Linked DNA regions of Homo sapiens. The protein of the gene in region 4 purifies or fractionates together with the protein of the main gene of each other region. This does not show direct contact. Each region holds a gene or a part of one and is shown on either strand. Other genes may lie near its edges.

Region 1 (3,500 bases), on a different chromosome or scaffold from region 4:
CTTTCTCTCTAGATCATGGCTGTTAGAAGTCCCCTCCACAAAAACTTGCCAAGGAGTCATTTCCTGGTTTTTGCACTGCTGCCCTTCCCCGTCTCCTTAATCTCTTTTTAAGTAGGCAATTAACTTGTGCGTGCATGTGTCAATTATGCCTATAAAGACTGCTATTCTCTACAGGGCAAAAACCTCTGCCCTCCTGCCTCTGGAGGGGCCAAACTCAACTACACTGTGCTCATCGGAGAGACCCCTTGTGCTGTCACCGTATCTGAGACCCAGCTTCTCTGCGAGCCTCCCAACCTCACCGGGCAGCACAAGGTCATGGTGAGTGAGCCCTGCGTCTGTAATGCCTCCTTCCCGCCTCGTGGTGCATGTGTGATCTGTCCTAAGGAAAGGCTCTCTTCTGTCTCGTTGCCTGACTCACCCCCTCCATATCTCCTCATCTCTGGGTCCTACATCAAATTGGGTATAAGCTGAGAACACAAGAAAAGAAAGGCAGATGCCGAGGCAGGAAATTGCTTTTTATCTAGAGCTGCACTGTGTGGTTGTGGTCTGTCATGTCCTTCCTCGCACTGTAAGGATCTGCTGGCATGCCCGGGCTCTACACCTGTGTGCATCCATGTGCGTCTGTATGTGTACAATGCACAGGTTCACGTGGGCGGGATGGTGTTCTCGCCTGGCTCGGTGAGTGTCATCTCAGACAGCTTGCTGACCCTGCCAGCCATCGTCAGCATCGCGGCCGGCGGCAGCCTCCTCCTCATCATCGTCATCATCGTCCTCATTGCCTACAAGCGCAAGTCTCGAGAAAATGACCTCACTCTCAAGCGGCTGCAAATGCAGATGGACAATCTGGAGTCCCGTGTGGCCTTGGAGTGCAAGGAAGGTTAGTGGAAGCACACCCTCATTTGCTGGGTCCCTCTTTCTCCACCTGCCTTATTGCCCTTCTCCCTGCAGACAACTCCTATCTTTACTCCCATCGCTGCCAGCCATGCCTCTGCATTCCACTTTCACCCCTGTTTTCCCAGAACTTCTTTTGCTTATAGGGTCAGAGATGTCCAATGAAGAATGCCCACTGCATGAGGACCCAGGTCCAATTGCATTGTTCTAGTCCCTTCTTTGCCCTGACCCATCCCACAATCTGGCAAACACTTTCTCCCTCTCAGGGCCTCAATGTCCCCACAGTCAGAGTCCCCAGGCTCCACAGCCCCAGACTCTAGATCCCCCATGGGAGTGTCCAGCTCTTGTTTTTCTGCACACTGTCTTCGCAGCACGTGGGAGCAGCGGCAGCAAAGGCAGACAAGCACCTGCCTCATCTCCCCCAGGGTTTGTTTTCCATCAGTGCTGCAGGCTGAGCGCTCTGAAGGCCGCCACTTGCTGGTGTCCTTGGCTGTGGACGTGTGTGGGAGTGCAGATTGTGTTTTCTCCCATGTCCCACGCAACCACAGCCTCGAGGTGACGAGTGTACCTGGCGTCCTCTCAGGCTGAGGACCTGGCAGGCTCTCTGGGTAAACAGCTCAATTAGGAATGAAAACATTTCTCCTTTTGCTGCAAATGTCAAGATCAGAAACAAGCCCTCTGCTGGATGACAGGGAAGAGCTGGGCTGGGAAATAGGACATGTGGAGCCAAGGTTCCTCCTGGCAACAGGGCTGGTGAGTTTGGCAGAGGAAGGAGCCAGGAAGACAGGTGTGCCACCACCAAGGTGAGGCTTCTGAAGCCCTTGCCTTCCCAAACTCGGCTCTCAGCTGAGCGTCTCATGACCAGACCTCCCCTAGGCTTTTGCATCTTGATTTATTACCTTGATTAGAAAAGGGCAGCACTTTGCCTGTTCTGGTCTTTGCTGGACCCCCTCAGCCATGGTCTCTCACCTGCCTCCAGCATCTCCGTGATCTTTACTAAACGGCCCAATCATGATACTTTTTTTTCCTTGTTGAAACTACACTTGTAATATGTAAAGAGAAAATTTGAAATTATAGATAAGTATAGAGGAGAAAATAACATAAAAATCACCCATTTCCCCACCACCTAAAAACAGCTGGGAGTAGCCCCGCCCTCTGGAGACACACTCCCGTAATCCTCAGAGTCTCTACAAAAGGTCCTCCCCTCGTCCTTTGCAAACTTCTTCTCCCTCTTTCTCCTCCCCCGACTGGGGCTTCCCCACGAGCCTCTCCGTCTGCTTATTCTCATAGCTTTTGCTGAGCTCCAGACGGATATCAATGAGTTGACCAGTGACCTGGACCGCTCAGGAATCCCTTACCTGGACTATCGTACCTACGCTATGCGAGTCCTGTTCCCGGGCATCGAGGACCACCCCGTCCTGCGGGAGCTGGAGGTAATGCCTGCCTCCTGGGCCCAGCCACCCAGCAGGGATGCAGGCCCAGGGTATCCTAGGAAATCCAGATGAGACTCAGCAGTACTGAGTAAGGTTAGCAGGGAAGAGGGGTCAGTAGTTTGTAACAGCATCTCAGCAACAGAGCTATCAGGAAGGTTACGGCTGAGGGGGCACCCAGGCTCCTTGGGATGGTTCCAGGGTAAAGCTCATTGTTTGTCATTTTTTAATTAATGACTGAACTAATTAACTAAGATCCTGCCTCATTCTAAAATGGATTTAAGATGGCTTAAAGAAAGACACAGGATTCTATGAGGTTTGTTTGTTCATTTGTTGGTTTGTTTTACTAAAGATAATAAATCAGGCAGAGGAGATTAAGGGGAGACTAGTAAACTGAAGAAGTTTGAGGGGGCATCTCCTATTCTATCCTTGGGAAAATCAGGCAGCCTCCCCTCTGAGAGCTCCGCATGGAGCCCAGCCTCCCCGGCCCAGTGCAAGGTCAGAGCAGACTGTCGACCTTAGAGCCAGCTGTTCCTACATCATCACGGGTGAGTGGAATGGGGTGGGGTTGGTTATAGGCCTCAAACATAGGGTCCTACAGCTAGTGTCATCGCCAGCAGGCCCTCAGTGAGACCCTCAGGTAGGAGGCCCGATGCCTGTCCTCTGAGGGCGTCGCCTCCACCACACCCCACCCCAGGTACAAGGAAACGGGCAGCAGCACGTGGAGAAGGCCCTGAAGCTCTTTGCCCAGCTCATCAACAACAAGGTGTTCCTGCTGACCTTCATCCGCACCCTGGAGCTGCAGCGCAGTTTCTCCATGCGCGACCGGGGCAACGTGGCTTCGCTCATCATGACCGGCCTGCAGGGCCGCCTGGAATATGCCACTGATGTCCTCAAGCAGCTGCTCTCTGACCTCATCGATAAGAACCTGGAGAACAAGAACCACCCCAAGCTGCTACTCCGGAGGTCTGGCCCGCAGCAGTGGGTGGAGAGGGTGGCAGGAGTCTGAACCTGGACAGAGCACCTCATTATAGCAGGCCCCACAAGCAGCATGAGAAGGCCCACTCCCCAGAAGGGGCACCCATTCAGAGCAGCCTGTGTCCTCACGTCTCTGCAGGGCAGAATCTGACTTTCCCTCAGCCCAGGGAGACTACAGAGTCTGAAGTCACCCAGGTGTGA
Region 2 (2,325 bases), on a different chromosome or scaffold from region 4:
CAAGAAAGACTATTCAAAAGGCTTTCAATCCCATGGTCTAACCCATGGTCACTCACCTGTCCACCCAACCTGGGACAGGTCTCCACTCCCAGGATGACATTGAAAATACTTAACATATGAGTTTCCCGCATGTCAGAATAGAGCAAGATCTTGAAGGTTCATTGGTATTCTCGGAGTGAACCCTTTAGTGGTTGGACCATGGGGAGGTCTGGGAGCCCTTGGGGAAGCGCTTACTTACCAAATGGTATGGAAATAGTGCAATATTTAAACCACCAGTTTGGCCATACAAGTATGTCCCTACGAGTCATCAACTCTGCTGGTAGCAACTATTTAACCTCCCTTTTCATGTGTGGAAGAATCTAGGTGTTTTTCTCCTCTAAAAAAAGGCACCTACATATTCCAAGAGGTTTTCCTTAACACAGCCCAACTCATAGCCACATCCCCCGACCACACGACAGGTCCTTACCGGGACACCACACAAAAACAAGCGTATTCTCAGATAATTTAATCAGAATTTTAATATAAACAGGTCATTATCCCATATTTTACATGCAGAACGATTTCAATATTCCAAAAAAAAAGGCGTCTTCTGTACATGGTGCTACTTGGCTCTTGTAGGAAAACATTGAAAAAATAATAATTGAGCTGTTGGGGGGTTTTGTGTTTCTGAGTTGTTTTCTGCAAAAGCTGCAGCACATTTGATCCTGCGTTGCCAACGCACAGGGCCGAGGCCACCCAGGCACACAAAGGGACGAGGAGAAGCAACTTTCAGGCAAAGTGTAAAGACTAAACAAGCTGTTCCTGAATATGTGCATGGGTGCACACTTATTTTGAGGCTCTTCCTTCCTTCTCCAATGGGACCAAGAGCCCCAGATTTGTGATCTGGTTTTTAACAAGGATTTTCAGTGGCCCGCACCCAGATAGAAATTTGGCTGGTGGCTGGTTCTGGACCTTGACTAGTATCAGAAGGTAAAAGTAAGCTCAAAAAGCCATTGTGTCCCCTCCCCTCACTCCCATTTCTCGGGGACCCTTAAGGAAATATTCACCTTCCATTGCACTCCCTGAAAGTCCACCATGTTCTTTTGTATGTTCTAGGAAAAAAAAAAGTGCTGACCTGTTCTTTTCATTCCCAACCTCACCTCGCATATAAATTAATATTCTGAAGAACATGCTGGAAGATTTTCTGAAGTGACACCCCTCTCTGTGTACCATGTATATAAAATCGGCATTCCCTGTTCCCCATCCTCAACAAAACCATTGTTTCTGAAGAGCCTAAGGTGTCAAGGACTCACCAGGTGACATTCAAAGGACATTTAACCCTAAACTTCCACCCACTGTGAAGGAGAGAAATGATTAGCACTGGGACTACAGCACATCCATTTACCGGATGACCAGCGCAAGTCATATGCTGATGACGCTCCTGCTCTTTCACACGTGTTACAGCAGACTACAAATAAACACCTCCCAATCCAATAAGCACATTTCTTGGTGGACTACCTGCCCTGCTAGGATACAGTGAAAGATCTGTCTGTCAGTTGGTAACATAGTCCCCAGGGTCACAGGATGACCTATGCAGACCCTTGTGTCAGTTCCCACAGCTTCTCTCAATCATCCTCAGCCTATATCCAGACAAGCAGCAGTGCTTCTCTTTCTCACTGCTTCCAATGATGAAACAGCACCTAGGACAGCTCCTAAAACCTGAACATTTTCTGATGCGTATTTGACATCACTGATGCAGAGAGAAAGTGATGTGCTTGGTATTCTCCTCCTGGAAGAAGGAACTCCTGTGTGGCTTTCACTACATTAATGAAAAGGGTTTTAATCATAGTGAGACATCTTTAAGAACAAGCAACAAAAAGTGTTATCCTAAGCTGGTTTTGTTGCTTTTTGTTGTTGTTGTTGCAACTTAACACTACAAACTCCCAGGACAACCGTGTCTTTCTAGGACCAAAGTTTTATTGTTACAAAGTCAACATTTCCTAATGTCAAAGGAGGTTTGCAACCCAATAGCTGTTTGCTCTTTTCACTGTGGCAGTAGAGTCAAATAAATGAAACTGGTGAATCCCATTTGCAAGGGGCAGGCCCAGCACACCCTACCTTTCTCCAGGGCAGGTGGAGAAAGGTGAGTCTGCAAGGGCAGTGCCTAAAAGTACAAGAGCAGCAAGATTTGGGCCCCACTGGTCCTGCCTAGACTCTCACATGGGTTATCAAAGCTGCACAAGGTCCAATAATATCAGCTTGAGGTCAGTCAAACCCCAACACAGAGGTCCAAGGTGTTGTTGCAAAAAAAAAAAAAAAAAAAAAAAAAGCGTTCAGCACATTAAT
Region 3 (3,500 bases), on a different chromosome or scaffold from region 4:
AGGAAGATTCCAACATGATATTGAAACATATATACACACTGTGTATCTGCATTCCAAACCTGGCCAGAAGTAGTCAACCAATAGCCGATCTTTTTAACTCTAGAGGAAAGGTTGGCAAACTACAGACCATGAGCCAGATCCAGCTTGCTGCCTGTTTTTGTACATAAAGTTTTACTGAAACACAGCTATGCCTCTTCCTGTACGTATTGCCTGTGGCTGCTTTCCTGCCACAAGGACTGGGGTGGGTAGTTACTGCAGAGACCATCAGACTGACAAAGCCTAAAATACTATTAGGCCTTTTACAGAAAATTTTGGCTCTGCCCTGCTCTAGGGCCCTGAACCTCAGTTAACTCTACCCTCTTTAACCTCAGTTCATGAAATAGTATACGACTAGAAGCTCTACGTTTATATTTAACTTCTATTTGGGAAGTTTTTGTAAGAGTAGATAGAGTTCTGTTTTTCTGAGTATGATTTGGATATGTAGGAATTGTTTGTTTAGTAACTTCCCTATTTCTTATCCAGATCCTGTCCCTGGAGGCTGTAATTTGGAGTTCGATTTAGATATTGATCCCAACATTTACTTGGAGTATAATTTCTTTGAAACGACTATCAAGTTTGCCCCAGCAAACCTAGGCTATGCGAGGTACGTCTGTCTCCCATGTCTGAGAAATGCTTTTAGAATATACATGACGACAGTTGTGTAGATTTGACCAGCTCTCTCAAGTCCCTAATTCTCTGTAGTAAAATTGAGTTAATTTTTGGGGGGAATTGATGTAATTTAAACTTCACTATTAATATTTGGACTGTCATTTACAGTTAATATTTTCCCACTTCATTCTTGTGAACTCTTTTTATTTGAAGAGCCAGATGTGAGTCTATTATGAGCTTGAAAATACATCCTGGTTTTTATAAAGCACTTTAAATATAGATAGCACTCAGTAGCCCTGAAACATCCTTTTATTTTTATAAAGATTCATTGTTTTAATTAAAGCTGTGCCTCAGTTTCTGCTTTAATAGTAATGATAGCTAACATTTGAGAACACTTGAATGCTTCCTGTGCATTGTCCGTGGTGCTGAGTGTTGTTATGTTCTTTGCCATTTAATCCTAACAATTTTATGAAGAAGGGCAATTGCTGTTATTTTACAGAAAGTTTCCCTAGGGGTTATGGAGGTTACCCTACTTGCTAACAAATGACAAATCTGCTATATTCTTCTTCTTTTTTTTTTTTTTAAATCAAAGATGAGGTCTTTCTATGTTGCCCTGGCTGGTCTTGAACTTCTTAGCTCAAGCAATCCTCCTGCTTCAGCCTCCCAAAGTGCTGGGATTACAGGCATAAGCCACTGCACCCAGCTTTTTTTTAAAAAAAATTTTTTTGCCTCCCCAGAGCTGTAGTATTTTACTCTAGGCCTGACTGATATCAGAATCCAGTTATGTAATCACCTTTGCCTGTTGGTGTTTGTCTTAGTTTGTGGTGCTGTAACAAAGTAGCACAGACTGGGTGGCTTATAAACTTCTTTCTCATGGTTCTAGAGGGTAGAAGTCCACGATCAGGATGCCAGCACAGTTGAGTTCTGGTGAAGGTTCTCGTCCAGGTTACAGACTGCTGGGTTGTCATTGTGTCCACACATGACAGAAAGAAGGCTAGAGGGCTCTCTGGGATCTCCTTTATGAGGGCAGTAATTCGATTCATTAGGGCTTCACCTTCATGACCTAATTACCTTCCAAAGGTCCCACCTCCTAATATCATCACACTGGGAGTGAGGGTCTCAGCATATTAATTTTGGGGAGACACAAACATTCAGTCCATAACAGTGCATTACTTTTCTTCAGAATACCAATTGTTGCCACTGCAAAAGGTGAACTGTTAAATTGTAATTATTGTTGCAAGTGTTTGAAATTAGGGCTCTTGGTTCCTTTTTATAGATGGGACTTGCACCACAAGAGACTGATGTTTCATTTTGTTGGTTGACTTTAGAGGCGTAGATCCCCCACCATGTGACGCTGGGACAGACCAGGACTCCAGGTGGAGGTTGCAGTATGATGTCTATCAGTATTTTCTGCCTGAGAATGACCTCACTGAGGAGATGTTGCTGAAGCATCTGCAGAGGATGGTCAGTGTGCCCCAGGTGAAGGCCAGTGCTCTCAAGGTAAATCTGAGTCCCATGATTTGTGTGGCTGGATTGTGACACCTTTGTCAGAGTTGAGAAGGGGAGAAGCTACCAGGATCTTATTTCTTTACTCTTTTCTCCTTTTTGGGGGACACTCACTTTATTCTCTTTTGTTATCATCTTGGGAGTCTTTGCTGGTGATATCTCAAAATGATGTTGGCCTTTGAGGAGATGCATGTAAATTATGTTACGTTTTAGTTGCAGCCACATCTGTGACTTGGTAATCTGAAATGTGAATGGAAGGAGGTGGTAATTTTCTGTGTACTCCCACGACTACTGGGTAAACATTTTTGGCAAGTATGAAGATTACATTGTTTTGAGAAAAAAATAATGAGAAACTGCTTAAGGATATACACATTGGCATTCATATTTGAACCCAAACTCAAAGTCTAACTTGGAGTAAAATTCTTCTCTGAGCTTTTGAATCCATGTAAACCCTTGCTCCCCAGGTGTGGACCATGGACCAGTGGCATTGGCATCACTGGGGAGTTTGTGAGAATTGTAATTCTTAAACTCCACCCTGGAACTACTGAATCAGAATTTGCATTTTATATCCCTCAGGTGATTCTGACTGGGTGCAGTGGCTCACGCCTGTAATCCCAGCACTTTGGGAGGCCGAGGCGGGTGGATCACCTGAGGTCAGGAGTTTGAGACCAGCCTGTCCAACATGGTGAAACCGTGTCTCTACTAAAAATACAAAAATTAGCCAGGCATGTTGGTAGATGCCTGTAATACCAGCTACTTGGGAGGCTGAGGCAGGAGAATTGTTTGAACCCAGGAGGTGGAGGTTGCAATGAGCCCAGATGGTGCTGTTGCACTCCAGCCCTCAGGTGATTTTTATGCATATTAAATTTTGAGACTCACTGCAATAGATCATTTTTGTGGAGGGCAGGATTTTATCTTTATGTCTTGAAAAGTGCCTAACAGCAATATAATATATGAGGTCATCCTTCAGTCTAATGGTTGATGGGTGGAGTTTTTCTAGACAGCGTCATTGTGCTTATTCACAAAATAAGAAGCTCTGTTAGTAAAGTTTATTAGTTGCTTTATTAGATATGACATTTTAATACTATTATTATTTTTATGAAGAATATAAGAACTTGTATAATAGGCTTTTTGTAGGTTACTTTTAAACTTTTAGTTAAAAGAATATTTTGTACCAGAATGTGGGGAAACCCTCAAAGACTAATGAGGGTATGTCAAAGAGATTCAGGAGCCTGTTTGAAGGGGCTTGCACTGCCAAATTTGGGGCAGTTCAAGAATCAAGAAAAAGACTGTGGTTGTCAGCCTTGAATAAATACAAATGAAACCTTCCTCAGTTGCCACCACTG
Region 4 (3,500 bases):
TTTTAAAGGACTCTTAAAGCACTAAACCATTAAACTGTGTTACTCCGCCATATTTCATGCTTCCTCTAGTTATTTACACACCATCAGAAGCTCACATCAGTTATCTGTGTCTAAAATGTGGACTCTGACATTTGGAGGGGTTTTATTATCTCAGCAGTGCATAATGAGCTTAAAGGGCTTACCTGCATGTCCCCGGAGGTGCTGGCTTGAGGCGGACATCAGCTTACAGCACACCATTAACACGTAGGCTAGAAAGAGCCAGTGCGACAGCAACACTGACTTAGCACAGACTCTCATCCTGGAGGAAAAGCAGGGCTGGAGTCAGTGAGGGCTGAGGAAGGCCAGACTCCCTGGCAAGCACCATTCTAGGAAGGCGGGAGAAAGCAGGGGCAGATCCCTGGAGCTGGAATTCCTTTCTCCCAAGAAAACAGAAGACCAATCAAACCTTATTTGCACTTAGCATTAACTAAATTTTCAATAAAAACCTTTGATAATTAAGAGTTTTCCAAGTTAGCACTATGCATCAGTGAGAAGCTTATTTATGAATCTGCAAGTTGTTGCCTGAGTTACCCTAATAGAGCATGGGGATTTTATTCTATTTTATACCATGAGATGTAAAAGCAACACACTTAGAGCCAGATCCAAATAAAATATATATGTTTTCTGGATCTGAAAGAATCCATGGAGATTTTGCACATGTGGTCCAAGAACTTTCTCCTGGTTTCTCTGACTGTACCCTAAGGCTTTCTGGTCTGGAAGACTAGGTTCATAGTTGATTAAACCAATCTCAACTCCTCCTTTGGGAAGGAGTATGGGCAAATACAGGTGAATATAAAATAAATTTAACTTCGTATGATGGACAGTATCAAAACAGTTGCTCAAAAACAATTCCGTTCACATGACAATTCAGTTGCATGGTCTATTCTAAAACAAAAGAGTAAAAAAAAGGAAGATATCAAAAACATTATTCCCAGCTGCCTAACTTTCTGCCATTTTATAACATCAGAAGGGAATTAAGTAGATAGAACTCGATTAACTTTTTTTGTTTGCTTTTTTTATATTAACTTTTGAAGCAAAACTCACCGCATTTGGCATCTGAAATTCCGGTGCTAATAGGTTCTTCCTTACACATGCCTCATGGCATCTATTATTACCACAATGGATCAAAGAAACCCCTGTTTAATATATGCAAATGTATACACACTTATGGGCCGACAATAAAAACATGGTACCTGAGTTTGGCTTCTTGCCTGAGTCACACTATAGGCAAGACCCCTAAGGAAGTCCTATAAGGAAGCATCTCCAGCTCCCAGCAACCTAGCAGTGCCTCTACGAAAGTCCCAGTCCCCTACTCCACGAAAACACATCAAAGCCTCAGGGGAATTGAATGCCACACCATACGCCGAGGCACACACATGTTCTGCTGCCAACATTCTCTCTCCGTGACCTCTCACAATTCCGTCAAATAGATCTTGTTAAAGGGTGTATTGCTCATTGATTTGAGATTTGGTCTGCTTTTTAAGTAGCCAGGCCAATCATGTTTGAAGAACTTGGTGTTAAAGGCAACAAAAAGCACTGGCTTCTTTTTGCCCTTTTAAACTGTTTCAAAATGGTTTTAAACGGCTATGTTGGGTAATTTGCAATGCAGCAATAAAAAATTAATCTTTCATTTATGTGATGCCTTGAAATTGTCCCTTTTGGGGCCACTAATTATGACAAACTGGAAGCCAGGGTATCTGATCCAGCCTGCAAATGTGTTTTGTTTGATCTGTGCTTTAAAAAAAAAAAAGAAAGAAATTGAATTGGTTGCCAACACATACAATGTCCAGATTGCAAATCAGAATCCAGATTCTCTTGAAAAATTATTCCTGGCATCCCCGGGCTCACATTTCCACATGGGAGTAACAGGCTGCCGTGGTCGCAGCTGCCCCTAGAAGGGTCTCCACAGTCCCTCCCACTAGTCAGTACCTTGGGCCCAACCAGCCCAACTCATTTACATGTGGCCATTTGAACTTCTGATCCTTGGGTAAGAGGAATAAGCCTTTGTAACAAATAGATTGATAGCTGATATTGGGGTAATAACTGGAATTTTAAAACATTATGTGTGAGACAGAGTGTTACATTAACAAAAAATAAATCATCCAATACCGGAATTTGAGCCTCTGGACTTCCCCCAAATTATGTGATTGATAATAGCATCTAGAACTCAGGTAAGATCCACGTATTATTTTCTTTGCCACCTTTCAAGCTGTTTCTAGAGTTTCTGTCCTCTTCATGTGTGTACACTGAGGTGGAGATGGAAGGCATGCTTTGAGAAACGAAAGGCCCTTCAAAGCAGAGAGGCTCCATGTTTCTGTGTAAGTTTAGAATGTTAGCAATGTCTGAAGCAAATTACCAAACTTAGAAGTTTAAAACAACAATCTATAGCCATACTACCCTCAACCCACCTGATCTCAGAAGCTAAGCAGGGTCGGGCCTAGTTAGAGCTTGGACAGGAGCAGTTTGAAACAACACCGATATATTATCACACAGTTTCTGTAAGTCAGGAGTCTGGCATGTTCTGGCTGGGTCTTCTGCTCAGAAACTCACAGGCTAAAATCAAGGTGTCAGCTGGGTGTGTCCTCATCTGGAGGCTCAACTGGGGAAGGATCACTTCCAAGTGCTCTCAGGTTGTTGGCAAAAGCCATTTTCTTGGGACTCTCTGTATTCCCCGTATTCTTGCTATTGACCAGGAACTGCTCTCAAGCCCTTCATGTCTTTGCCACATGGCCCCTGCACGTGCTCCTTCATGGTTTGAATCTCTTCCTCCAGGAAAGGCTCAGTCCCCTTTTAGGGCTTATCTGATTAGGTCAGCCCCACCCAGGATAGTCTCTCTTTTGATTAACTAAATTCAGTGTATGTGAAACCTTAAAAACACCTGTGAAATCCCTTCATCTATGCCTTACAGGTGTAATTTAATCAAAGATGTGAAACTCATCAAAACCACAATGCCACCCACACTCAAAGGAAAGCAATTAAAATATTTAAAATAATGTCCCACTGTTGGCAATAATTGAATGAAATATCTCTAATACAAAGAGAAAGAGTTTAACTTGATAAAACCATAAATTGATCGATAATTTGATCATGTATGTCAAACGTTTACAATCCAGCAGATCACTTATAGGATTTAACCCTAAAGAAATAACCAGCAACGTATGGGACTTTTTTTTATTGTTTATACTATTGAAAATGATCTGGCCATGCATGGTGGCTCATGCCTGTAATCCCAGCACACTGGGAGACCGAGGTGGAAGGAACGCTTGAGGCCAGGAATTCAAGGCAGGAGCGAGCTATGATTATACCACCACACTCCAGCCTGAGCAAAGAGTGAGACCCTGTCTCAAAAAAAGAAGGCAGGCAGGCAGGCAGGCAGGGAGGCAGGGAGGGAAAGACAAAAAAAAATGATGATCCAAATGTTTAACAGTATGAGACTGGTTAAACAAATTATGACACAGCCA
Region 5 (3,500 bases), on a different chromosome or scaffold from region 4:
ATGGTGAAACCCCCATCTCTACCAAAAATACAAAAAATTAGCCGGCGTAGTGGTAGGTGCCTATAATCCCAGTTACTCGACAGGCTGAGGTGGGAGAATCGCTGGAACCAGGAAGGCAGAGGTTGCAGTGAGTTGAGATTGCACCACTGCTCTCCAGCCTGGGCAACAGAACAAGACTCCATCTCAAAAAAAAAAAAAAAAAAAAAAAAAAAAAAAAAGAATGACAACTGTGAAGCCAGATGGTCAGGTTAGAAAGCCAGGCTTTCTGTGACTTCTTCTGTAAAATGGGAATAGAAATAAAATGGGAATAGAAATAGTAACCTACCACATAGGGTTGTCATGGGTATTAAATGCAGTAATATATCAAAACCATTCAGAATGGTGCTTGAATGTGCTAAGGGCTAAATATTAGTTTGACATATGTAGAACACTGCATTCAACAGCAACAGAATACATGTTCTTTTCAAATACACTGGAACATTTACCAAAATTTAACAATATGTTGGGCCATAAAGTAAAGATGAAATTTCACAAAATAAAATTTAGAGTATATACTCTGACTACAGTGGAATTAACCTAGAAATCAATAATAAAAAGACAATTAGAAAAGTCCCAATTGCTGGCCAGGTGCAGTGGCTCATGCCTATAATCTCCGCACTTTGCAGGGCCAAGGTGGGCAGATCACCTGAGGTCAGGAGTTCGAGACCAGCCTGGCCAACATGATGAAACCCTGTCTCTACTAAAAATACAAAAATTAGCCAGGCGTGGTGGCGGGCACCTGAAATCCCAGCTACTCAGGAGGCTGAGGCATGAGAATCACTTGAACCCAGAAGGCGGAGTTTGCAGTGAGCCGAGATTGTGCCACTGCACTCCAGCCTGGGTGACAGAGTGAAACTGTGTCTCAAAAACAAACAAAAAAGAAAAGTCCCAATTGCTTAGAAATTAAGCAACATAATTCTAAGTAACTCTTAGGTCAAAGCAGAAATTATAACAGAAATAACAGTTCAATTGTATAGACAACAAATTGAACTGAATGATAATGAAGATAGGAAATATCAAAACTTGTGGGACACAGCTAAAGCAGGACTTAGAGGAAAATGTGTAGCTTTAAACACGTATATTAGAAATGAAGAAGGGCTCAGTATTAATGATCTAAGAAACTTCTATCTCAAAAGGCAAACAGAACAGCAAATCAACTCCAAAGAAAGTATAACAAAGGAAATAAAAAATAGAAAATAAAGAAAATCAAGTAAGCCAACAGTTGGTTCTTTGGAAAGATTAATTTATACAGTCTTCACAAGGGTAAACAAGAAAAAAGAAAACAGAAATTACCAATATCAGAAATGAAAAAGATGATATCACTATAGAGCCTATGGACATTAAATAAATATAATAAAAGAATATTGGCAAATGAAGTGGCTCATGCCTGTAATCCCAGCACTTTTGGAGGCCAAGGTGGGTGGATCACTTGAGCCCAGGAGTTCGAGACCAGCCTGGGCAACATGGCAAAACCCCGTCTCTACAAAAAATACAAAAAAATTAGCCAGGCATGGCAGTGCACGTCTATAGTCCCAGCTACTTGGGAGGCTGAGGTAGAGTGATCATTTGAGCCTGGGAGGTCGAGGCTGCAGTGAGCCATAATCATGACACTGCACTCCCACCTGGACAAAAGTGTGAGTCCCTGCCTCAAAAATAAATAAACTAGCTTGGCGTGGTGGTGCATGCCTGTAGTCCCAGCTCAGGAGGCTGAGGTGGGAGGATCGCTTGAGCCTGGGAGGAGGAGGCTGCAGCAAACTGAGATGGTGCCACTGTACTCCAGCCTGGGCAACAGAGCAAGACTCTGTCTCTAAATAAATAAAAAAAATTATAAACAACATTATCTCAAGAAATTTGACAATTTAGGTGTAATGAACAAATTCCTTAAAAAATACAGTCCATCTAAACTGATACAAGAATAAAAAAATCTGAATATCCCAATATCTATTTTAAAAACTAAAATTTACTAAAAACCTTGCCACAAAGAAAACTCTATGCCCAAATGGCTTCACTGCTGAATTCTTTCAAACACTTAAGGAAAGAAATTAGACCAATCTAACCCAAAGTCTTCCAGAGAAAAAATAGGAGCTATCACTACTTTGGTGTTATACAGTTGGTTTAATCCTAAGCAAAAAAAAGAAAAAAATACCCTCAGTAAATTTCAGTCTCAGACATGGCGTATCTGTGGGAGGTACACAGGGCCCCGGGAATTGGGACTGAGACTCTTACCATCCTCATCCGTCTGGAAAGTGACCTCCTTGCCCTCTTTGCGCCCCTCAGGGTTAGTGAGGACAAGCCTCACGTGAACGTTCCGATAGGGCAGCAGGTTCTTGATGGTGTAGCGGCTGACACCTTGCTCTGTCTTCACACACTCTCGGATGGTCTGGTTGTGGCTGCTGCCCAGGGTGTAGTGATAGCACAGCGACACAGTATAGGTGTGGCAACGCGTCACGTTGTAGCCCAGTGGTTCCCACTGCAGGGTCAGCTGACGGGCCTGGATCTCAGCAAAAGCCAGGCCTTTGGGGGCCCTCATGGGCTCTGGAGAATGCAGGAAGCAGAGAGAAGAAGTTAGAAGAAATGGGAAGAGAAGAGGAAGAAGAACAGGGAGAGAAAGCATCAGTCAGCTGCCTGAAATCATCCCTCCATTGCCCCCAAGAGCTCAGGGGACCCCTAGAACATCAAACAGGGAGTAAAAGTATGTGCTTTGGAGTCAGGCGGACTACATTTGAATCCTGGCTCTGCCACTTGCAGCTGGCAACTGCTGGCTGAATCACTTCACCCCTCTGATCCTTAGATTCCTCAACTGCAAAATGAAAAGATAATAGGCCCTGCCTCATAGGATCATTGTAAGGTTTAAGGAAATACACACAAAGGATGCATGACAATGGCTAATATACAATAAGCCCTCAAAAATATTAGCTTTTTTTTTTTTTTTTTTGACAGAGGCTCACTCTGTCACCCAGGAGGGAGTGCAATGGCATGATCTAGGCTCACTGCAACCTCTGCCTCCCAGGTTCAAGCAATCCTTCCACCTCAGACTCCCAAGTAGCTGGGATTACAGGCGTACACCACCACGCCTGGCTAATTTTTGTATTTTTGGTAGAGATAGCGTTTCACATGTTGGCCAGGCTGGTCTTGAACTCCTGACCTCAAGTGATCCACCCACCTCAGCCTCCCAAAGTGCTTGGGTTACAGGTGTGAGCCACCGCACCCGGCCAATAATTTATTTTTAATAGCACAGTTCACCTCCTAATTCAAGATCACCCTGGACTACAACAGGCCAGTCTGAATCAAACTGTTGATATATTTTTCTTAAGGTATTAATTCCAAACTTGTTCTGAAACAATGTATAGTAATACATATAATATAATAACATACAGAAATCAGGGTAATGAGGGAAATGAGAGCCAAATAGTTAAATAAAGCCAGAGAATGACAGGGAAACAGAAACAGAAATACATGAC
Region 6 (3,041 bases), on a different chromosome or scaffold from region 4:
ATTGAAGTTTGAGGCAGTGGAAAGAAAAGATCTTCCTCTGAAAACTCTGGACATTTGGTGGAGTCACACCTCAGCAAAGGACTTAAGTTAGCCCTAAAGTCTCCACCAAACCTGCCCTAAGAAAACTTAAGAAGAAACCTCAAAAGGACTCAATTTATTTGTTTAATAAATAACTTAAACTGCCGCCGGAACAAGGCTCAACAAGTAACAAAATTGATTTTGTTTATTATAATAAGGTAAAATTCCCAATGTCCAGCACTAACTTGTTTACAATTTTAAAACAAGCAAGCTTTTGACAGCTTTCTTCCCTGAATGATAACAGAAACTCACAGTACACCTGGCTCCCCACAGGAGGACATTTGCCATTGATTCCAAAGGAATTCTGTAATGATGTAAATGTGAAGGGATTGGGACATCTCTTGCTAAAAAAGGTCACACACACACACACACACACACACACACACGCACACGTAATATTTGTAAGAACATTCCATTACAGATTTTTTGTGGCACTTTTTAATAGTACGTCTCCGTGAACATATTATATCACTTCTGGGACTACATATTTTTGAGAGCAGAGGCCATATCTTACATACAGTAGATACCAAATAAATTTTAACACCGAACATTTACATAGAACTATGTTCTAGCAATTTTTTAAAGCAGATGAGGAAACTGAAGACTAGGGAGGTTCAGGTTACACAGATGGTTTGTGGTAGAGCCCAGATCTGAACCTTGCCTGTTGGGCCCCAAGGGACCCAAAGTTCAGGCTCTATCCCAGACCGCTCTGTTAGGTTGCATGGAGAATGCGATGCATTGTGCAAAGATTAACTGTGATTGTGTCTACTACAGGAGAAATAAGGAGCAGCTTAGCTTGCTAAAAAGTGAACACATTTAATTGGTTTAAACTTGCATTCATTATGCAAACTTTGCTTGAAATATTTCATTTGACAATTCTAGTAAATTAATACCTATTCTTAGTCTAGATAGTGCATAACAAATTACTGACGACAAATCCTAAGTGCGTTAAAGTAAAATTTTAAGACCAAAAGCACATGAATGCACTCAGTTATGATAATGTGAGATGATACAGTATTTTCTTTTTGCTTTCAATTTAATCATTTACTGTAAATATAATATGTTCAGTGAAAACTTTATTTATTAAAGCTAAGATGAAAAGGCTTTTCTTCACAGGCCTGTAAGCTCCCCAAATTCTAAAGCCTGTGAGTTTTTCTTGCTCTGTATTTCATTTACATGAACTTTTCCCTCAATGTTATAAATTATAAATGCTTGTGGTAAAATGAAAACATGGAAACACACAATGAATAAATATTTCATTTACCGAGGATTTATCACTCAATATCTTAGTGTATTACAGATAGTCTCATATTTATTTAAATGTGAGATTATAATAATTTGGAAACCTATCCTAGTTTTAAAATACTACTATAGTTTATGTCTTTTCCCATTTAATTAAAGTTTTCAAAATAAAATGATTGCATGATATTCCATCATCATATCACAATAGTGATAGCTGCTGGTTATTGATATACTGATGAGCCAAGCAGTAAGCTAGGATCTTTATGTGAATTATATAATTTATTCCTAATTTGTCCTTATTTGATATGCTAGAAATTTGAGGTTTCTGTGATTTCCCAAGGTAACACAGCAAGAACAAAGCTGAGATTTGGATCCACGTCTTTCTGACTGCGAAGTCTGTGTGTGATCATTGTTTCCATTGTCCTCAATTATGGTACATTGTATCACAGTAATGGATCATACATCATTTAATTACTTCCCTGTCATGGAACATTTAGTTTATTTTCAGTTATTCATATATTTAATGCCACTGAGACAAACATCCTTGCATGTGAGTAGAATCTTTACACTATTCTCTTACTTCTTTTGGATAAATCCCTTTTACTTGATTTCATTGGTAATTCTGCATCACATCTTGTGTATATTGACACCCTCTGCTCCTTTCACCTCTGGCTTTCTGAGCCTCTCATTCCCTATTGGTTAACTCATGTCCTTGGTGCCTGGGAGTTTTCCAATTGGCCCTGTTCCCAGGGGAACACTCCTTAAGCTGAAAAGTCTCGTCTCTACCCTCATCTCCCATCCCTGATTCACAGGCCCCTCTGAAGCTCCTGGCCGCCACAGTCAGTGAGCATTACCTGTTACCCCACCTGACACAGGTCCCCACACAACAGCACAGTGATGCCAAACAGTTGCTGCCTTCTGGACAGTCACTTGTTCCACCTGCTGTTGACCTTTCTAGTTCTATTTATCTCTGGAGATTTGGCAATTCTGATTTTTAAAAATATATGCAACTTACTTTGCATACATCTTCTTGACTAGCAGCATTTATGTGGCAAAACTTGTTAATTTTTATTAAATGTTTTCTGTGTGGCTTTGTTCTGCATTCCTACCTTAAGACTATTTCTCTCGTTCACATGCATGTAGAAAGTAGAAACCACAGGGAACAATGTACATTCTGAAATGCTTAATTTGCAGACATTGTGAAATTTTACTCATCAATGTGTTTCAACTCTTTGGTACATTTCTAGCATTTTGCTTAATATGTTTTATATGAAAAGGCAAATTTTAAATACTTAAGTTTCATAAACCACCAAATAATCAATAAACCCAGTTACTAAAACCCTAACGATTGTCAAACTTTAGAGTAAGAAAAAATGACCTAGAAAATGTATTGAAAAGTGAAGGCTTCTATACTTTTCCCCTACTAGCCTGTTACTCCTGTGACTGATTCATGAGGGATCTCTATTTTCAGCAACACCAGGGTGATTCTGATGCTGATGGTCAGTGAAACACACTCTAAAAATTATACAAGCGAATATATCAGCAAGTTTGCCTTCATATTTGTTAACTGAAAAGCAGTGAGTGTTCTGCTCTGTCCTCTCCCTTGAATCCTAACAAAATAAGTAAACAGAAAAGATGTGGCTAGCAGAAACTCCACAATTCTAACCTCTCAGCTATGCCCAGATTTTCTGTAGGGATACAAAGGTACAGTCACAAAGGGA
Region 7 (3,500 bases), about 36 Mb from region 4:
TGGTAAAATGTTTTTGCTGATGTTTAGTATAGTTTCCTCATTTTTAGAAATTCACATTCAGTAAGCCCAGTTTTATGTTTGTGTTTGTGTGTGTGTGTGTGTGTATGGGTGTGTTTGGTGGTGTTTCCCCATTTTGGTAGGTATGGGGGAGGGAAAAATATACGATACAGTTTCAACTGGAACACTTAGATATTTTCAAGTGTAGCCTGTAATGCACCCTGCTCATAAGGCAATTTTGGCCTGTATCCCCAGTACATATTCTAGTGGTCTGGAACATAAGTGATGAGGTAGAAGAAGGAGGAAGAAGAGCAGAGGGACGGGCAGCCAGAAGCAAGAACAAAAAGGCAGGGAGCACTGGGGCAGATGGAAGTGAAATATGGGGTGTGGGCATAAGAGACAGGGAAGAAGCCGGAGCAGAGGTTACAGCGAGACTTGTCAGGGCCACAGATACTCTGAGGTGCTGGAAGATTTTGAGTATCCCTACAGTCACACTTCTTTTTAGCTGTTGGTTATTTGGGTAGAATTCTGCTTTCCCGTGGACAGTATCAGTCTTGGTATCTGCAGAGGTGACAAGATGGTGGTCCATGAGGACAGTGAGGAAGCACTTCGACTCACCACCCACCTTGACACCGACAGCCTGCCAGCTTTCCCATCACCTAGGACTGCCTTTGGCAAAGCTCTGTGCAAATGTTGTTCCCTTTCATCATGCTGACTGAGTTCAGCACAAACAGCTTGTTTACTCCCAACAGTCAGTGAGCTATAGTTGATGACCTGAAAGAAAATGAATGCACTCTCCGGATTCGTGCAAGCAAGAATGGGAAATGACAAAAATACCATGGAATAAAATAGAATCTGGGGTTCTTCACGGTTCGATGTCTTGGGGCTGCAATGAGGCAACAAAAAATATTCCCTAGTAAAATGACGTGTGGAAAGAGGCCTTAAGGTATAGCTGGTGCATGAAGTGATGGCCTATGCTTTCGAGTGGGTGGAAGCTTCTTGAGGAAAAATGATCTTGGAGAGTTACTGCTTCCTACCTTACCCCTCATGAAAGGGGGCCGGGTTCTGGCTGAGAACAGGGATATTCATCCTCAACAGCAGAACCTCTAGGAGACAACTGGCAAAGGTGTATTGTTTCACAAAGATAATTTCTTCTGCAGTACCGCAGAATATGTTCTTTTCTTTAATTAAGAACAAATTGGTTGGGGCAGATTTGGGGCAAAAATGACTGGTCAGACATGTGGAATGCCAAGCTTCTTTGCATTAGGAGCAAGCTTTGATGGAGCGGGGTCACCATTCTGCTTGAAATCGACTAGCAGTGGGGAGGGAGTTCTACTAGGCTACCCTTTGAAATTGATAGGGATGTGGGCACCAAGGAGAGGCTGGGATGAGAAGAGATGCTCTCACCAGCCAGGCTGTGGCAGCGATTTGCTCACCAGTGTGTGAGGGTGTGTGTTGTGTGCACGTATGTGGTGCACACCTGTGTGTGTTTGTATTCAATTGGTCCTTCAACAATGGCGTCTTTTCAGAGGGTCTTCGGGGTGTTATGAGAGACTATGGGTACAAGTGATTTATTCCGTGTAATTTAGAAGTGGGCCTATAGTCCTCTTGTGTTTTGGGAGACTGTGCTCCTGGAAACTGATCCCAGTGCTGAACAGTTTTAAGGTAGCAATGAAGAGAAGCTTGGGATCTGAGCTGTTGCAGACTTTTCCTTGTTTTCCTTCCAGAACCATTTATTCTTTCACTCACTCAAGAATACCTATAAGAATACCTATAGTAGATAAGCACTGTTCTACTTTAGGGACACAATGCCTTGGGGCCTGCTCCCCAAGCAGCTCATTGCTAGTGTGTTAGTTAGCTTTTTCTGCATAATAGACCATCCCCAAAAACTTAGTGGCATGAAACAACAATTTATTCTGCTCCAGTTCTTTGAGTCAGCAGTTTGGGCTGGGCTCACTCAGGTGAATGTGGTCAGCCACAGCTGGCTAATCTACGGTGGCCTCAGTTGGGACGTTTACCTCTCCTTCATGGGGTCTTTTATCCTTCAGCATCCAGGTTTGTTCACATGGCAGCTGGCAGGGCTCCGAGGCAGAGAGCAAAGGTATGCAACACTTTCATTGCGTTCAGTAGGTCAAAACAAGGGACAAGGTCAGCCCAGATTCTAGAGATGAAAAAATGGGCCCCATCTTTTCATAGGAAGAGAGGTGCAAAGTCACATTGCAAAAGGACTTGATGCAGGGAAAAGTGGAGATTTGTGGCCATTATTGCAGTCTGTCTTCCACAGCCAGTAAGTACACACATGTGCACAAGCAATCTAACCACCTTATCCTGAGGTCAAAGATATACGTCATGACTTTCTTAAATCTCAGTGTGACTTGTCTGTATGTTTTGGGTAAATTGTAGTGAAAAGTTCTGTCATAGTGGCATTCATTTCATTTTGTTGTTTTTTGAAGGAAGGACAGTACTTCAATGCAAAACCTAACGCCCATTCAGAATGTTGGGTGAAAATTTATGCACACAAAATCTTTGAAGTTCAACCCTATAGGATGCAAGACCATGAGATTCTGTCCCATATGCTCCAACGGGGGAGGGAGTATTTATCCTGTTCACCAGTGATCCCAAACTCTAGCACATAGTCAGCACTCAGTGAGGTCTGTTGAATGAAGGAGTGGGTCAGTGCAGGTTTTGAAATGAGGATATAACAGGGAATGTGAAGGGCCTGACTGAGCCCTGGGAGCCTGTATGTGAATTCTACAAGGCTCATTAGAATGGTCCAGCCATCTGATATGTTTTTTGTGTGAGGTTTTATGAACAGGACACAATGGGGTGTGATTGGGCTGTCCTTTTCTAAGCATAAAACACGCATGCATTTGATATTTGTCAGTGATGTTTGCTCTTCATCCACTGTTTCCCTTTTCTGACTGAGGACACATGTAAAGTGAATGGGCTTACATGTCAGGAGCAGATCAGAAAAGATTGTTAACTTTTATTTATAACTCTGTCAGTCATTAAATAAGCAAGATACAGAGTCTTATTCTCTAACAGCCTTTAGAAATAAGCCAGATACCCACTAATCTAGTTTCAGAGCCCAGGAATGCACCACATGACACCTCAGCATTCCATCTAGACCTTGGCTCTGGAGCTCTGTGCATTTTGTTCTTCCGAAGTTGAAAGTTAAGTGGGAGAAGCAGTCTGTTTTAATAATTTAAGTGTATCTTCCAGTAGGACTTGGCTTTCAAAGACCATTGAGAGAGGGGAAGGTCAAAGGGCTGCTGCTGTCTTCTGAGGACACCAGCTTCTTGAGCTTTCCTGACCAGTTGATTCCCCTCTCATCGGGCTGTCCTTACATTCTGGTCTCCTAGTTGTGGGGCTCTATTGCTTCTTATTCAGTTGAATTCAGAATACTTTACAGCATCATCTCATGACTTGGAAGTTTTACAGAGAGCAAATCAGTGTTTTAAAAGATGCATTTGGGGGCCGGGCGCGGTGACTCATGCCTGTAA

The links.
Region 1: the proteins of TAFA4 (region 4) and PLXNA2 purify together in Homo sapiens (affinity purification with mass spectrometry; 2 studies listed by BioGRID and IntAct, with this or other methods). This does not show direct contact.
Region 2: the proteins of TAFA4 (region 4) and INSR purify together in Homo sapiens (affinity purification with mass spectrometry; 2 studies listed by BioGRID and IntAct, with this or other methods). This does not show direct contact.
Region 3: the proteins of TAFA4 (region 4) and TM7SF3 purify together in Homo sapiens (affinity purification with mass spectrometry; 2 studies listed by BioGRID and IntAct, with this or other methods). This does not show direct contact.
Region 5: the proteins of TAFA4 (region 4) and PTPRU purify together in Homo sapiens (affinity purification with mass spectrometry; 2 studies listed by BioGRID and IntAct, with this or other methods). This does not show direct contact.
Region 6: the proteins of TAFA4 (region 4) and DSC2 purify together in Homo sapiens (affinity purification with mass spectrometry; 2 studies listed by BioGRID and IntAct, with this or other methods). This does not show direct contact.
Region 7: the proteins of TAFA4 (region 4) and SUSD5 purify together in Homo sapiens (affinity purification with mass spectrometry; 2 studies listed by BioGRID and IntAct, with this or other methods). This does not show direct contact.

What each region holds. Positions count from the first base shown.
Region 1 is NC_000001.11:208,041,885-208,045,384, reverse strand, and holds part of PLXNA2 (plexin-A2 precursor), read left to right. Parts: intron 1-174; coding exon 175-318; intron 319-642; coding exon 643-877; intron 878-2,181; coding exon 2,182-2,324; intron 2,325-3,018; coding exon 3,019-3,287; intron 3,288-3,500. UniProt on the Homo sapiens protein: Coreceptor for SEMA3A and SEMA6A. Necessary for signaling by SEMA6A and class 3 semaphorins and subsequent remodeling of the cytoskeleton. Plays a role in axon guidance, invasive growth and cell migration.
Region 2 is NC_000019.10:7,111,765-7,114,089, forward strand, and holds the end of INSR (insulin receptor isoform Long preproprotein), read right to left. Parts: 3' UTR 501-2,325; downstream 1-500. UniProt on the Homo sapiens protein: Receptor tyrosine kinase which mediates the pleiotropic actions of insulin.
Region 3 is NC_000012.12:26,993,885-26,997,384, reverse strand, and holds part of TM7SF3 (transmembrane 7 superfamily member 3 precursor), read left to right. Parts: intron 1-522; coding exon 523-643; intron 644-1,976; coding exon 1,977-2,148; intron 2,149-3,500. UniProt on the Homo sapiens protein: Involved in the inhibition of cytokine-induced death of pancreatic beta cells. Involved in the promotion of insulin secretion from pancreatic beta cells.
Region 4 is NC_000003.12:68,880,548-68,884,047, forward strand, and holds part of TAFA4 (chemokine-like protein TAFA-4 precursor), read right to left. Parts: intron 299-3,500; coding exon 183-298; intron 1-182. UniProt on the Homo sapiens protein: Modulates injury-induced and chemical pain hypersensitivity. Ligand of FPR1, can chemoattract macrophages, promote phagocytosis and increase ROS release.
Region 5 is NC_000001.11:29,274,522-29,278,021, reverse strand, and holds part of PTPRU (receptor-type tyrosine-protein phosphatase U isoform 1 precursor), read right to left. Parts: intron 2,575-3,500; coding exon 2,266-2,574; intron 1-2,265.
Region 6 is NC_000018.10:31,058,340-31,061,380, forward strand, and holds the end of DSC2 (desmocollin-2 isoform Dsc2a preproprotein), read right to left. Parts: 3' UTR 501-3,041; downstream 1-500. UniProt on the Homo sapiens protein: A component of desmosome cell-cell junctions which are required for positive regulation of cellular adhesion.
Region 7 is NC_000003.12:33,156,311-33,159,810, reverse strand, and holds part of SUSD5 (sushi domain-containing protein 5 precursor), read left to right. Parts: intron 1-3,500.